3 separate regions of the Homo sapiens genome follow, and regions 2 and 3 are each linked to region 1. The links come from fine-mapping of genetic effects on gene expression. A gene starts in region 1. Each other region holds a variant in brackets. All regions are shown on one strand. Distances are from middle to middle. Region 1 holds the start of ERCC5 (ERCC excision repair 5, endonuclease). Region 2 overlaps BIVM-ERCC5 (BIVM-ERCC5 readthrough). Region 3 has its middle 35 kb from the start of ERCC5.

Region 1 (4,243 bases):
ACAAGGCAACATATGGTTCAGATGAGATCTGAATGAATGATCAGCCTAACCTCCAAGCAGATTCTTTCAGCAGACTGCAAGGTGCACTGGAGAGCTTTAGACTAGAGGCTTAAGAGGTCATTTAGGCAATATTTACAGAACTGCTAAGTGCCAGGATTGGGGGATGTAGCAGTCACGAAAATCGTTCTTCGTTTCAGTAAGTTTACAGTTTACCATGGGGAAGAGACAAATACTGAACAGGCAGTTATATTACTCTCAGTAAAATAACAACTGGGAACAGTTTCTGGGGATTACTTTACATATGGAGGAAATGCAAAAAACACTTTGTCAGGATTATTCCTGTAGCAAATTAGATGTGACTAGGTCAACCAAACATGGCCACTGTGAACCATCTTATTGAGCATAGAAGTGGTTTTGCTAAAAATGGATTTCTCCACGGAGCACGGTGGCTCATGTCTGTAACTCCAGCACTTTGGGAGACTGAGGCAGGAGGATTGTTTGAGACCAGTTTGGGCAACAAAGCAAGACCCTGTCTCAAAAAAAAAAAAATCAGGGCGTGGTGGTGGGGGCCTGTAATCTCAACTACTCGGGAGGCTGAGGCAAGAGCATCACTTGAGCCTGAGAGGTGGAAGTTGCAGTAAGCTGAGACTGCACTACTGCACTCTAGCCTGGGCGACAGAGTGAGACCCTGTCAAAAAAATAAAAAATAAAAAAATAAAAAAAATCAATTTCCCGTATACTTCTGTTATAAAGAAGTCTTTAAAAAATTGCCTGCTCCCTTAAGTCAGCCTTTTCACTGAGTTTAAATTTCGTTCCAATTTGAACAAATATGGATGCTAATACTATCCTTTATAGTTACTAGTGCTAAGTGCGTTGCATGTAACACCTTGAATACTTACTGAAGTCTGCAAGGTTGGTTTTATGCCCTGATTACTGATGGAGACACAAATTCTGAACAACTGTGACTTCAGGGATGCTAAACACCATAGTGAGGCACGATGCGGGGATTTGAATCTTGGCCTGAGGGTTCCAGAGCTGTGGCCTTTTCTGGGGTTACTCTGTTAATTGATTTCTAGTCCTTTCTGATCTACAAGCCGCGGCATTATAACTTTTAGATGCTGAAGAAAACTAAACTATATGTCAAGGATTAAGGCTTGTGAACCCCCAAAATTTGGGACAGGTCTCAGTTAATTTAGAAAGTTTATTTTGCCAACGTTAAGGACGCGCAGCTGTGACACAGCCCCAGGAAGTCCAGATGACATGTGCCCAAGGTGGTTGGGGCACAGATTGGTTTTATACATTTTAGGGAGACAGGAGACATCAATCAACATATGTAAGTACACTGGTTCCTTCCAGAAAGGTGGGGACAACTCGGAAGCAGGAAGGGCTTCTAGGTCACAGGTAGATGAGAGACAAAAGGCTGCATACGAGTTTCTGATAAGCCTTTCCAAAGGAGACAATCAGAATATGCATCTATCTCAGTGAGCAGAAGGATGACTGACTAGAATGGGAGGCAGGTTTTGCCCTGAGCAGTTCCCAGCTTGACTTTTCCCTTTTGCTTAGTAATTTTGGGACCCTAACATTTTCACAGGCTTTAAATTTTATTATTCTTTAGTTACTACGTGCTAGCATATAAATAAATAGTACAAAACCAAGAAGGCATCCACCTTTTGGTTGTCTCTTCACGTGTAAAACAACACTTTGTGTTAAGTATCTTCACACACGGCGGCGCAAAGGTAGAAACCGATACTAAAAAAGCGTGTAGAAAATAGTTCCCAGCCTGGGCAACACAGGGAGACCTCATTTCTACAAAAATAATTCGCCAAGCATAGTGGTGCGCACCTGCGGTCCCAGCTACTTGAGAGGCTGAGATGGGAAAGTTGCTTGAGCTCGGGCAGCAGGAGTTCCAGGCTGCAGTGAGCTAAGAATGCGCCACTGGACTCCAGTATGGGCGACAGCGTGAGACCCTGTCTCAAACAAAAACAAAAGCCCGTTACTCCACCAAGAAGGCGCTTTTGCACATTGTTTTAATGCTTAACGCCTTCAGGATGCCAGCGTGACGGAAGCAAGTAACCACCAAGGCATCACCACTGGCGCTAAACTTCTCACTTCCGGAGTGCTGCAAGCGCAGAAAATATACGTCATGTGCGGAGGCGGAGCTTCCGCCCTGCGCGTCGTATTAGACGGAAACCGAGCGGGCCCATTTTTCATGGGTTTGCGGACCCACCAGCGAAGGCGGGAGGTGTCGCAGGGACATCTTCTGGCTGTTTCCGTCGCCTGCGTGGCCCTTGCACCCCGGTCTTCCATTAGCGGCGCAGACGTTTGGGCCTAAGCGCTGGGCGAGGCGAGGCCCTGCCCCTCCCCGCCAACGGCCATTCTCTGGACCTGTCTTTCTTCCGGGAGGCGGTGACAGCTGCTGAGACGTGTTGCAGCCAGAGTCTCTCCGCTTTAATGCGCTCCCATTAGTGCCGTCCCCCACTGGAAAACCGTGGCTTCTGTATTATTTGCCATCTTTGTTGTGTAGGAGCAGGGAGGGCTTCCTCCCGGGGTCCTAGGCGGCGGTGCAGTCCGTCGTAGAAGAATTAGAGTAGAAGTTGTCGGGGTCCGCTCTTAGGACGCAGCCGCCTCATGGGGGTCCAGGGGCTCTGGAAGCTGCTGGAGTGCTCCGGGCGGCAGGTCAGCCCCGAAGCGCTGGAAGGGAAGATCCTGGCTGTTGGTATCCTTAACGCCGCGTTGGGACTTGGGGTGCAGGGATTCGGGGCTGGATTCCTCGCGGGGCTCTGCCTTGGGCACAGTGGCATCTGCAGGATGATGGTCTTGGGTCGGGGTCGGGGTCGCTATAGAATCTCTGTCACTAGGTTTTCTAAGTACAGTCGTCCCTCGGTATCCCCGGGGCTTTGGTTCCAGCCCCTCCTCCGTATACCACGATGTTCAAGTTCCTTCAACTCCCTTATATAATGGCGTGGTATTTGCATATAAACTACCCACTTCCGTAATCTTTTAAATCGTTTCTAGCTTACTTGTAATGCCGAATGCAATGTAAGTGATCTGTAAATAGTTGTTATACTGTATTTTAAAATTTTTTGTAGTTTTTATTGGTATGTTTTATTTATTTATTTTTTTCCATCGCAAATATTTTTGATCCGTGGTAGGTTGATTGCGGAATCGGGTGATGAGGCGGGCCGCCCTGTCTGCTTTCCCCAGCTTTGCAGTCTTAGCGGCCTGTGCATCCTGGTTTGTCACTTTGTGGCAGTGCTTTATGTTCCTCTCTGCCTTAGTTCTCTCATCTGCAAAGTAGAGGTGGTGATAGTATCTACACACAGGATTGGAATGAGGAATAAAGAAATTGCCTACATGAGAGAAGTTTAGTGCGATTAATACAGTAAATCTTAAAGTTATTATCCTGTCCGGGAGGTCAGTAAGGAGAGCAGAGTAGACTTCGACGATTAGTTTTGCTTGAGTCTTGCCCCATTTATGTTTCTTAGAGGAAGGATAGTGTGGACAGGTGTTTTACCCATTTTTTAAATTGACTTTTTAAGGACTATTGTTTCTGTACATGTTTGGCTGGTTTTGTTTGTCATTGGAATTAAATTCTTTTTTCATTAGCAAAACGTGATACTGCTTTTGAAATTTTTATCTTTTTCTTTGTTATGTAGTCATTTTTTTTTTTTTTTTGAGTATCTATTCTGGCTCAGAATCTGGTGATACCTTACACCAATTTCCTAAATGGGGATCTATGAGTCTAGGGGCTCGTGGGCTTGTGGAAAGAGTCCTGTAAATGATTGCGGGGGGATTGGGGACGGGAAATGGAGTGCAAGAGTGTGTGGGCGTTCAGCAAAGGAATCCCTGACTGTGGAGCCCTAATTCTTCAGTAGGTACAAAACTTATAAATAAAACGACATTGATAAGTTTTAAAACATAATGAGATTATCATTTTTTGCAAGTGAATAATCTTTAAATAAATCTGTAATTGATTTTTGGCTTAAAAGTTTTTATACAGGGTACTTTGAATTGGGGAAAGCCAAAGGATTTTTGTTTTGTTTTGTTTTGTTTTTTGTTTTTTAGAGCACATGCGCTGTTGCTGCCCTCAAGCTGTTGCTTAGTATCATTGCAGTCTAAAGATTTTCTCAGAAATAAAGGGTAAAGGTTAGTTTTCAGTGACAAGAACCCTTAAAACTTCAGCAAAGATTTAGATCATTTTATGTAGCAGCCCTTGTGAAGAATTACTAAAGAGGACTGTGGC
Region 2 (4,243 bases), 29 kb after region 1:
CAGTGGTGCAATCATAGCTCACTGCAGCCACCACTTCCTGGGCTCAAGGAATCCTCCTGCCTCAGCCTCCTAAGTAGCACAAGCCACTGCATCTGGCCCCTCTCCTTAGTTTTAAAGAGGGTCTTTGTTTGAATAAGCAGTGATAAGCATTCATAGATATAACCACATACTTAAATATTATTGATTCTGAAAGAAGGAAAGATGACTAATCTTGTCCTTTTTATTACTGGTTGTCCTTTCCGTGTATATTTAAGTAATCATTTGGATAGATGTTTCAAAACTTGCACTAGAATTAATCCAACTACGTTTGATTTTTTCTCTTAATGAAATAGGCAAGATATCTGAAACTTGTTTTTATTCCAGTTAACCTTTTTTCATAGTCACAAGTCTTTGATGTCCTAAAGTGAGAGCTAAATATGTTTTATTTTATAGAATTGAAAAGAACATAGTGCCAGATGATTATGCTGGAGTCATTTATTTTGTTAGTACTTTCTTTTAGCACTCTAATCTTTATAAATAGGAAAATCTTAGGAGATACAGGGAATGGAATCAAGAATGGGTTCTTTGGACCTTTTTATTTGTCACTTGTTTAAATATCTTTCAAAATATTTATAAGTCTTAACTGCATGCATATTTTGTCAGCGGTATTTCGGCTGGAACAGAACGAAGACAGATGAATCTCTGTTTCCTGTATTAAAGCAACTCGATGCCCAGCAGGTAATCATGGTGGACCCTTCTCCTAAGTTCAGGATGAAGGGTAGGCTGTGGTTGACAGCTGTTAAAGACCAGTTAACTCTTATTTTGGGGCATAGAGCAGACATTTTGAAATTAGGATAATTTAGATGAGAGAATAGAAGAAAATAGAAAAAGAAAAGTTAGACTTTGGCTTCATTTTCTATGATCACTCTTAGGGCTGAACTTTGGAGTCCTTTCATATTCATTTTTTTCTTTGAAAAAACCAGTCTAATAACTGATTTCACACTAAGGTGTTTCTGATTAAATACATTACCCCTTGGGATTTACTTTCATTTTTTAACGAAAGGAAGTCTTCAAAGCAATTCTGATCATTTAAGTTTTTATAAGTACTAATATTTTTAAATTCTATAAACGAATCTTGAAAGGTAGAAGTTCAGTCATTATTGTGTATCAGTAGGAGAGGTTTTTGTGGGAAGGAGCCCTTTTGTATGACCTTTAGTTCCTCTAGGTACCTACTTCTTGCTTTATCTGTGAGTATGTTCTGACTCACACAAAACAAGCTTTCGCCCACACTAGAAACAACCCACAAAACATACATACAAATAAACCACTTAGCAGAAATGAGAATGTAGCTTTTGTGATAATATATTTAAATTAAACCCATTTTCATTAGGCTTGGATAATTTTGAAAAACATGAACAAAACTAAGACAGCATTTCTATGAGTTTCTCTTTGTTTTTTGGATGACTATCTACTGGAAACATTATAAACCAACCAAAAAGGAAAGCTATTTGTCTTAGTGTCTGGTGATTTCTTAATTTCAGATAAATTTTGTTGTAATATTTATCTCCTTTTTCATTCTAAAACTTAATGTGTTTATTTTTCCAAAATTAGAAAATGAAGAAAATGAATTAAAACTACTCATTAGTTACCTCCTCTAATACAGTTGTTAACATTTAGGTTAAAAAATTTTCCTGCATTTATTTGTGGCCATACTAAATGTAACTTAATAGATCTAATCCTCCCCCCCAACTTATTAGCATATTTTCTTCTATGTATTGTGTGGTTTTCTTAATTCCAGATGACTAGATTATATTTCATGAAAGATATTTAAATAATTAGTTCAGTTTACTTGTTAGACCTTTAATTTTCAAGTTTGTTATAGTAATGCTGTGATGAACATTAGGCATATAGCTTTACCCATATATTTTTTTTTTGAGACGGAGTCTCACTCTGTCTCCCAGGCTGGAGTGCAGTGGTGAGAACTCGGCTCACTGCAAGCTCCGCCTCCCGGGTTCACGCCATTCTCCTGCCTCAGCCTCCCGAGTAGCTGGGACTACAGGCGCCCGCCACCACGCCTGGCTAATGTTTTGTATTTTTTTAGTAGAGACGGGGTTTCACCGTGTAAGCCAGAATGGTCTCGA[T/TCTC]CTGACCTCGTGATCCACCCACCTCGGCCTCCCAGAGTGCTGGGGTTACAGGCGTGAGCCACCATGCCCGGCCAAAGAATATCTTCTTAAAAGTGAATTTACTGAATAAAAGGCATGAATATTTCTTACAGTTGCTAATATATACTGTGAACTTGCCTCTCAAAGGTATTGTATGATGATAATGTTTTTAAAAGAAAGATATAGTAGGACTTAGAAACAGGCCCCATGAAGTCGTGTTGCTCCTGAGGAAGATGAAATGTTTAGCTACAGAAAAATATTTAACGCTCTTTGAATATCTTAGGAAGAGATTTCTCATTTGAGATGTGGACTAAAGACTTAGTTGACAGAGATGGTACAAGTACTGCTTTAGGTATGATTTAGAAAGTGAAAATTACTGTCAGTAATTCACTGGGAGAGAACTGGGTTTTGGGAGATAATGAATTAATATTCTCTGACATAGTAATCCAATGTGAGTGATCAAGGTTGAGCTTGTTGATTTGGTTTAGAAACTTGACTTACTTGTCTGATTTATTATTATTATTCTTTTGTTATTTTTTTAGACACAGCTCCGAATTGATTCCTTCTTTAGATTAGCACAACAGGAGAAAGAAGATGCTAAACGTATTAAGAGCCAGAGACTAAACAGAGCTGTGACATGTATGCTAAGGAAAGAGAAAGAAGCAGCAGCCAGCGAAATAGAAGCAGTTTCTGTTGCCATGGAGAAAGAATTTGAGCTACTTGATAAGGCAAAAGGAAAAACCCAGAAGAGAGGCATAACAAATACCTTAGAAGAGTCATCAAGCCTGAAAAGAAAGAGGCTTTCAGATTCTAAAGGAAAGAATACATGCGGTGGATTTTTGGGGGAGACCTGCCTCTCAGAATCATCTGATGGATCTTCAAGTGAAGATGCTGAAAGTTCATCTTTAATGAATGTACAAAGGAGAACAGCTGCGAAAGAGCCAAAAACCAGTGCTTCAGATTCGCAGAACTCAGTGAAGGAAGCTCCCGTGAAGAATGGAGGTGCGACCACCAGCAGCTCTAGTGATAGTGATGACGATGGAGGGAAAGAGAAGATGGTCCTCGTGACCGCCAGATCTGTGTTTGGGAAGAAAAGAAGGAAACTAAGACGTGCGAGGGGAAGAAAAAGGAAAACCTAATTAAAAAATATGTATCCTCTATAATTAGTTATGACAGCCATTTGTAATGAATTTGTCGCAAAGACGTAATAAAATTAACTGGTGGCACGGTCTTTGTATTTAGTGTGTGGTTCCTAAAAACAAATGCTAAATCTGACATTTGTTTTTTAATGTTTTACTTTTCTAGTATTTTTTAGCTGAATATTTCAAGTATCATTGGATATTATCTTGTATTCACAGGCTTTGTCTTTTCATGTTTTCATTATCTTAACAATGTCTGATCCTTCCTGGTCACATGTTAAAAAAGCGAAAAAGATTTCTATTGATCAGCACTCACTCTCAATAGGCTTTCCCTCTGACATTCAGACGTAGCTGAGAAGAAATACGTGCATGTTTCTAATTCCACAATAGTGGCAGTTTTACACAACTGTTTAGCCCTGCTGCCCACGGCTTTGCATTTTCCCTCAGGTTCCACTTAAAAGCATAGCAGGAGGGAGCCTCACTGCTGGAACATATTTCAATATGTTTGCTGTGGTTTTAGCAAACAATTAGGAAACCTAAATGGGGTGCATCATTCTACCTGTGAACATTAAGTGTATGGGAACCTCTGTACCGTTATGTTTGGCTTTTAAACCAGACTTCACTTATTAGAAGCTGACTTCTGTGTAAATGGATTTGGAGGCTGGGGGCTGGAGTTGAACTGGTGTAGGTGGGTCAGCTTTAGGAGTGGCCTGCAGGGGATGATTGTTGTTGACACAGTGTTTGTTCAGAGTGGACAAAGAAGGTTATTTTAAGACTGCTCCTGTGGAGACGTCTCCCAAGAACAACCCCCAAGCTCCTATTTGCTTCGAGTTAAGAATGATTGGAGGAGAGTACTACCAATTACTTTGAGCGTGGGTCCTCTGCCTTCAGAGCTACCTTCCCAAGTCTGTGTCCTTTTGGCATCTTTAGTATTTCCATCTTTCCTGACTTTTTCCTTCAGCCTTC
Region 3 (4,243 bases), 36 kb after region 1:
AATGGCTTAAAATCACAATCTAATTATAGGCAGGAATAACTAAAATCAGGCTTCCCAACTCCTAGCCCTTTCCAATACATTAAAGTGACCTCGATTCATCTGTGTATACATTATGGACCTGTAGTCACACTCCTAAGTTTAACTTTCCAATATTGCTTTATCTTAACTCTGTAACTTTCTATCAGGGATCTTTCCAGTGGCATGGGAAATGTGTATGTCCTCTGAGAGGCACACATACATGCACTTGGGCAGGTGCACAGATGGATCTATGTTCGGAGCCTGCCCATTCAGTCTGAATAAAAAGGAATCATGGTAGTTTGATTTCTGGGTGCAGAGCAATGCTACAGACATTCTAGTATGGTTGTTGGAGTCTAAAGACAGTGTTCCCATGCAGATAGGTGACATGAAAAATATGTAGCGTTCATTTCCTAGAATGTCATAGCCACGGAGTCTTAGAATAACTCTTGGCATCCAAGTTAAAAGCTGGATCACTTCCTCCAAATAGTCTTCACTCACTTCCGGGAGTGGGTTGTATTCACCTTTAGCTCTGTTCACGAGACACTCGTGGGATATTCCTAGCCTTCTGCCCCCTTAGTTACGGGCATTGCCGTCTCACTGCTGTATAACCAGAGGCGTGGGAGCTGCAGCTGTCAGAATCCTAATCCCTTCTGCCTGGACTCGTTACCAGTGGTAGCGAGTGTGTATAGTAGTAAACTGTGCTGCGATGCTAGCCTTTCAGTCACTACCAGAGGTCCCAGCAGCAAAAACAAAAATTGTGGATGATACATTTTAACCTTCTAGAAACTCAGCTAACTCCTTTAGGTATGTCCAGGCTTTCCATTTAAATATCAGCCTTAAGGCAGACATGTCTTTCTTTAATGGAAGAGATCTAAATTGGGAGCAAAACATGTGACCACTTTTGCTATCGTTTTAGCTGTGTAGCCTCAATGACATAATTTAACCTTGGTTTTCCTGATTTGCAAACTGTAGGGAAAATAATGTCTTCTAACTTGCTGAAGTATGCTGTAAAAGAAAATGTGGTGGCTGTAAAATGTGCTTTGGGATTCTCGGAAGAAAGGAGTGCTATATTAATTCATGGTACTGCAATTGTTATTTTACCCCAGATTGAGAAGTAAAATATCAAATCGTTATTTTCTAAAGTTTGAATAACTGTTAAATTTATTCAGATAATCTGCTCTATTCAAGAGGCATAAATAGTTTCTTCAGTTTTAAATATATCGGCTGTGATGGTATGGACTCCTTAAGGTAGACGCTGCTCAAAAGATTATCTGGCAATGAGGCTGTTTGACATTGCATAGGTGCTAATGATGCATTGATGGTAACAAGTGAACTTTCAATGTTTTAATCGCCTCTTAAATTTTAGGATTGCAGTCTTACTAGTCAATATGAAGATGATGCCTTTCTTTGTTACAACTGAGGTAGTCTCTGGTGAAGAATATGTTTTCTTTCTGTAGTAGCTTTTTAAAATTTCTGACTCAGAAGCTTTTGTTCTGATTTTAATTTGTTCTAGATAGTGTTTAGATGGTCTTTCTTAAGTCACGCTTCGTTAATATATGATATTTTAATATAATTTTGTCTGCTGTATTTGAAGTTAAGCTTTATTAAGAAACTATAAAAGCACTCCATACATATTTTGAATTATTACCATTTGATATTTTAATGTATTATCTATCTAGTTTTCAAGAAATAATGAAGAAAACATCAATATATCACCTACCATCATTTCATTACTTGATGGATTCAGAAGCTCAAGAAGGTAAGTCATTTTATGTTTATGTAGCTTACCAATTCTAAGAAGACAAATAACTAATAGAATATAAAGTGTCACCTTTGTAGTATTCATTAATGTCTTAAATGGAGCTGACACTTTTATCAATGGCATATTATGTCTTGGTTTATATTTGTGAGCCTGCAAACATCTTGAATCATGTTTAAGTCTATTACTATACCATGATCTTGATGATATGTTAAAGATACTTTTGACAGATTAAATTAAATATATAGACTTACTAAGCATGTACAGGGTTTTTGATCTTCAAATAAGGAATACATTTTTTTCTCAAGTGCTGTACACTAAAT[G/C]TATGATGTGATTTCTAAGCAAATTTTATTTCAGATAAGAAGCTTGCAAGAAAGATAAAAATAGTTTTATGTGAAAACTATAAGTTTTTACTGGTGGTTGGATGAAAGGTGAATTTAGGCTATACAGACATCTGTAGCCTGAGTTTATGGTTCCTCTAACTATTTATTAGAGGCAAATACATAATGTAATTTGACCTCTGGATGTAAAGAGATTAAGTTTGAATTCTACTATCAGTGTGGTTATTTGAAATTGAACCATCATTTTTATATAGTCTTAAGTATCAAGCGTGACTTTGCATGGGTTATGTAATATAACTGTCCCCATTGTCTTGAGATCAAAAGTACAGACATACACTCTTGACAGACTAGAAAAATTACCATATTTTTGTAGAGCAGTTGTAATACAAATCTAAATATCTTGATTTCTTTTGTTCTCTCCTTATCTGCACACACTGTAGATGTTTTCTGAACACTATAGTTCTGGTTTTTCTGTTTTTGGCCATTCCAGGTGGCTTCTACCTAGGAGAACACATCTTTAGGCCAAGAAAGCTGGGTGTATGCCCAGTGTTGGCAGCCTACCTGGCTTAAACACAAATAGTTTTACCAAGCGATTCTTGCAAACCTAACCATTTAAGTCGATCACTTAGAGAACCCAGCCATTTAGATGATTTGAATGAAGACGCAATTTCTGTATGGTTTATGAATAAAATTATATCATTATCATTACCATTAGTAACAATTCTTGGTTTCAACTGTGTAGAAGATAATTTGGCAAATTACAAAGGAAGTGGAAGAAGTTCAAGGTAAGGTTGAGACGGAACTAGCATTACAATGTTTTACAACACAAACAAACACACTCTGTAATCATCTATATAGCCAAATGAAGCTTTAAAAATGTGTTCACACACACAGAGCTAAGGGAATTAAGGATGTGCCCTTGGAGCAGATCAGGTGGCATTTAGTTGGAAAGCCATCACCAAGTAGAGGAACACTCAGTTCTCAAGTACTGAAGGATACTGACTTTTCCTGCCCTCTTTTATACTTAGAATCCTGTGCTTGGAAAGGATGGAGCAAACCCATAGCTCAGTGCTCATATTTCAACACTGGCATGAAGATCCAAGAACTATAGGATGTCACTTATTTATACACAGATTAAAATTAGGGCTATGGTGGGTGCTAAAAAATTCTTCTGTATGTGTTTCTAAGGCTATATTGTAATCTAAGGTGTCTAAAACCTTACCCACATTAACTATTCTAAATATCCTATGTTGCCTGCCTCATGCCAGCAGCCTCTCTCCAGCTGTTAGTACACGTAGCAATCTGTTATAGAATAGTAGGGTCACCGGAGGACCTGCAGCCTTGGGGCAGATTCATCCTTGCCCAAGGCTCAGTGATTCTGGCTCTCAATGACCCTCGAGTCTGTCACGTCAGCTGCTTACTTGACATCCTACTTACTACCTCTTGTCAGTTTAGGGCCTTCAAGACATAGATGCCAAAATGGGGCTAAGCATGTAAGGGATTTACTGGGGGAAATGTTTGTGGAGGATAAGGAAGAAAACAGAAGTAGGCTAGGGGAGCCTTCAGAGCCCAACATGGGTCCAGTGCCCGTGAGAGGAGACAGAAGACAGATTGGATGGGAAGAGTCTCCAATTGCAACACAATTCTGAGACAGTCTCAGGTGGGCTGATGAAAATCCCTGAGCAGGAGTTGCCCACTAGAGGAGTGTCCTATATGGAACAGGAACTGGCTGGCTTGAGTAGGCAGCCTCAGGAGGAACATGGTCTCCCAGGAGCCACAGGTGCAGCAATGGGCAGTGTTGGGCAACTCTGCTCCTTGTGGCAGGTTCTCTTAATCTGAGTGGCACACCAGGGTAATATGTATTTAAAATAATTTTCCTTTACAGGTTTGCCCTTCCACCTATATTTTCGATCTCACTCAATGGCAACATCACTCCCCAGGCTACCCAGAAACCTGGAATCATCCTGATTTTCTCCCTTTCCTTCACACCCTTCATCATTACATCTCATTGATTTTACATTCCTGATATGTTTCCCTACGCCTTGTTCCATTTCCACCATCACTTACCTTGATTCTTCATTATCTCTGCTCCTGACTGCTGTTAACCACCTTCTAATTGGCTGTC

Evidence for each region. PIP is the estimated chance that this variant, and not a neighbour inherited with it, causes the effect. A credible set is the group of variants that fine-mapping cannot tell apart.
Region 2: its variant is the best candidate, but not a certain one, in a credible set for the expression of ERCC5 in nasal epithelium (TOPMed, PIP 0.76).
Region 3: its variant is the best candidate, but not a certain one, in a credible set for the expression of ERCC5 in whole blood (TOPMed, PIP 0.62).

The regions. Positions count from the first base shown.
Region 1 is chr13:102,843,639-102,847,881 of GRCh38, forward strand. It overlaps ERCC5 (ERCC excision repair 5, endonuclease), which reads left to right and starts at 2,394. Exons shown (of 15, transcript NM_000123.4): 1 at 2,394-2,716. The coding sequence starts at 2,629. All of the region lies in intron 9 of BIVM-ERCC5 (BIVM-ERCC5 readthrough), which reads left to right. RefSeq lists enhancers at 1,324-2,148, 1,733-1,782, 1,993-2,782, 2,149-2,971 and a silencer at 3,133-3,182.
Region 2 is chr13:102,872,627-102,876,869 of GRCh38, forward strand. BIVM-ERCC5 (BIVM-ERCC5 readthrough) reads left to right here. Exons shown (of 23, transcript NM_001204425.2): 22 at 633-717; 23 at 2,681-3,369. The coding sequence ends at 3,277. ERCC5 (ERCC excision repair 5, endonuclease) reads left to right here. Exons shown (of 15, transcript NM_000123.4): 14 at 633-717; 15 at 2,681-3,369. The coding sequence ends at 3,277. Among named protein-coding and RNA genes, the nearest start is that of ERCC5, 29 kb to the left of the region's middle. The variant T/TCTC (reference allele first, on the strand shown) is at 2,121.
Region 3 is chr13:102,879,391-102,883,633 of GRCh38, forward strand. It overlaps the pseudogene METTL21EP. Among named protein-coding and RNA genes, the nearest start is that of ERCC5, 35 kb to the left of the region's middle. The variant G/C (reference allele first, on the strand shown) is at 2,101.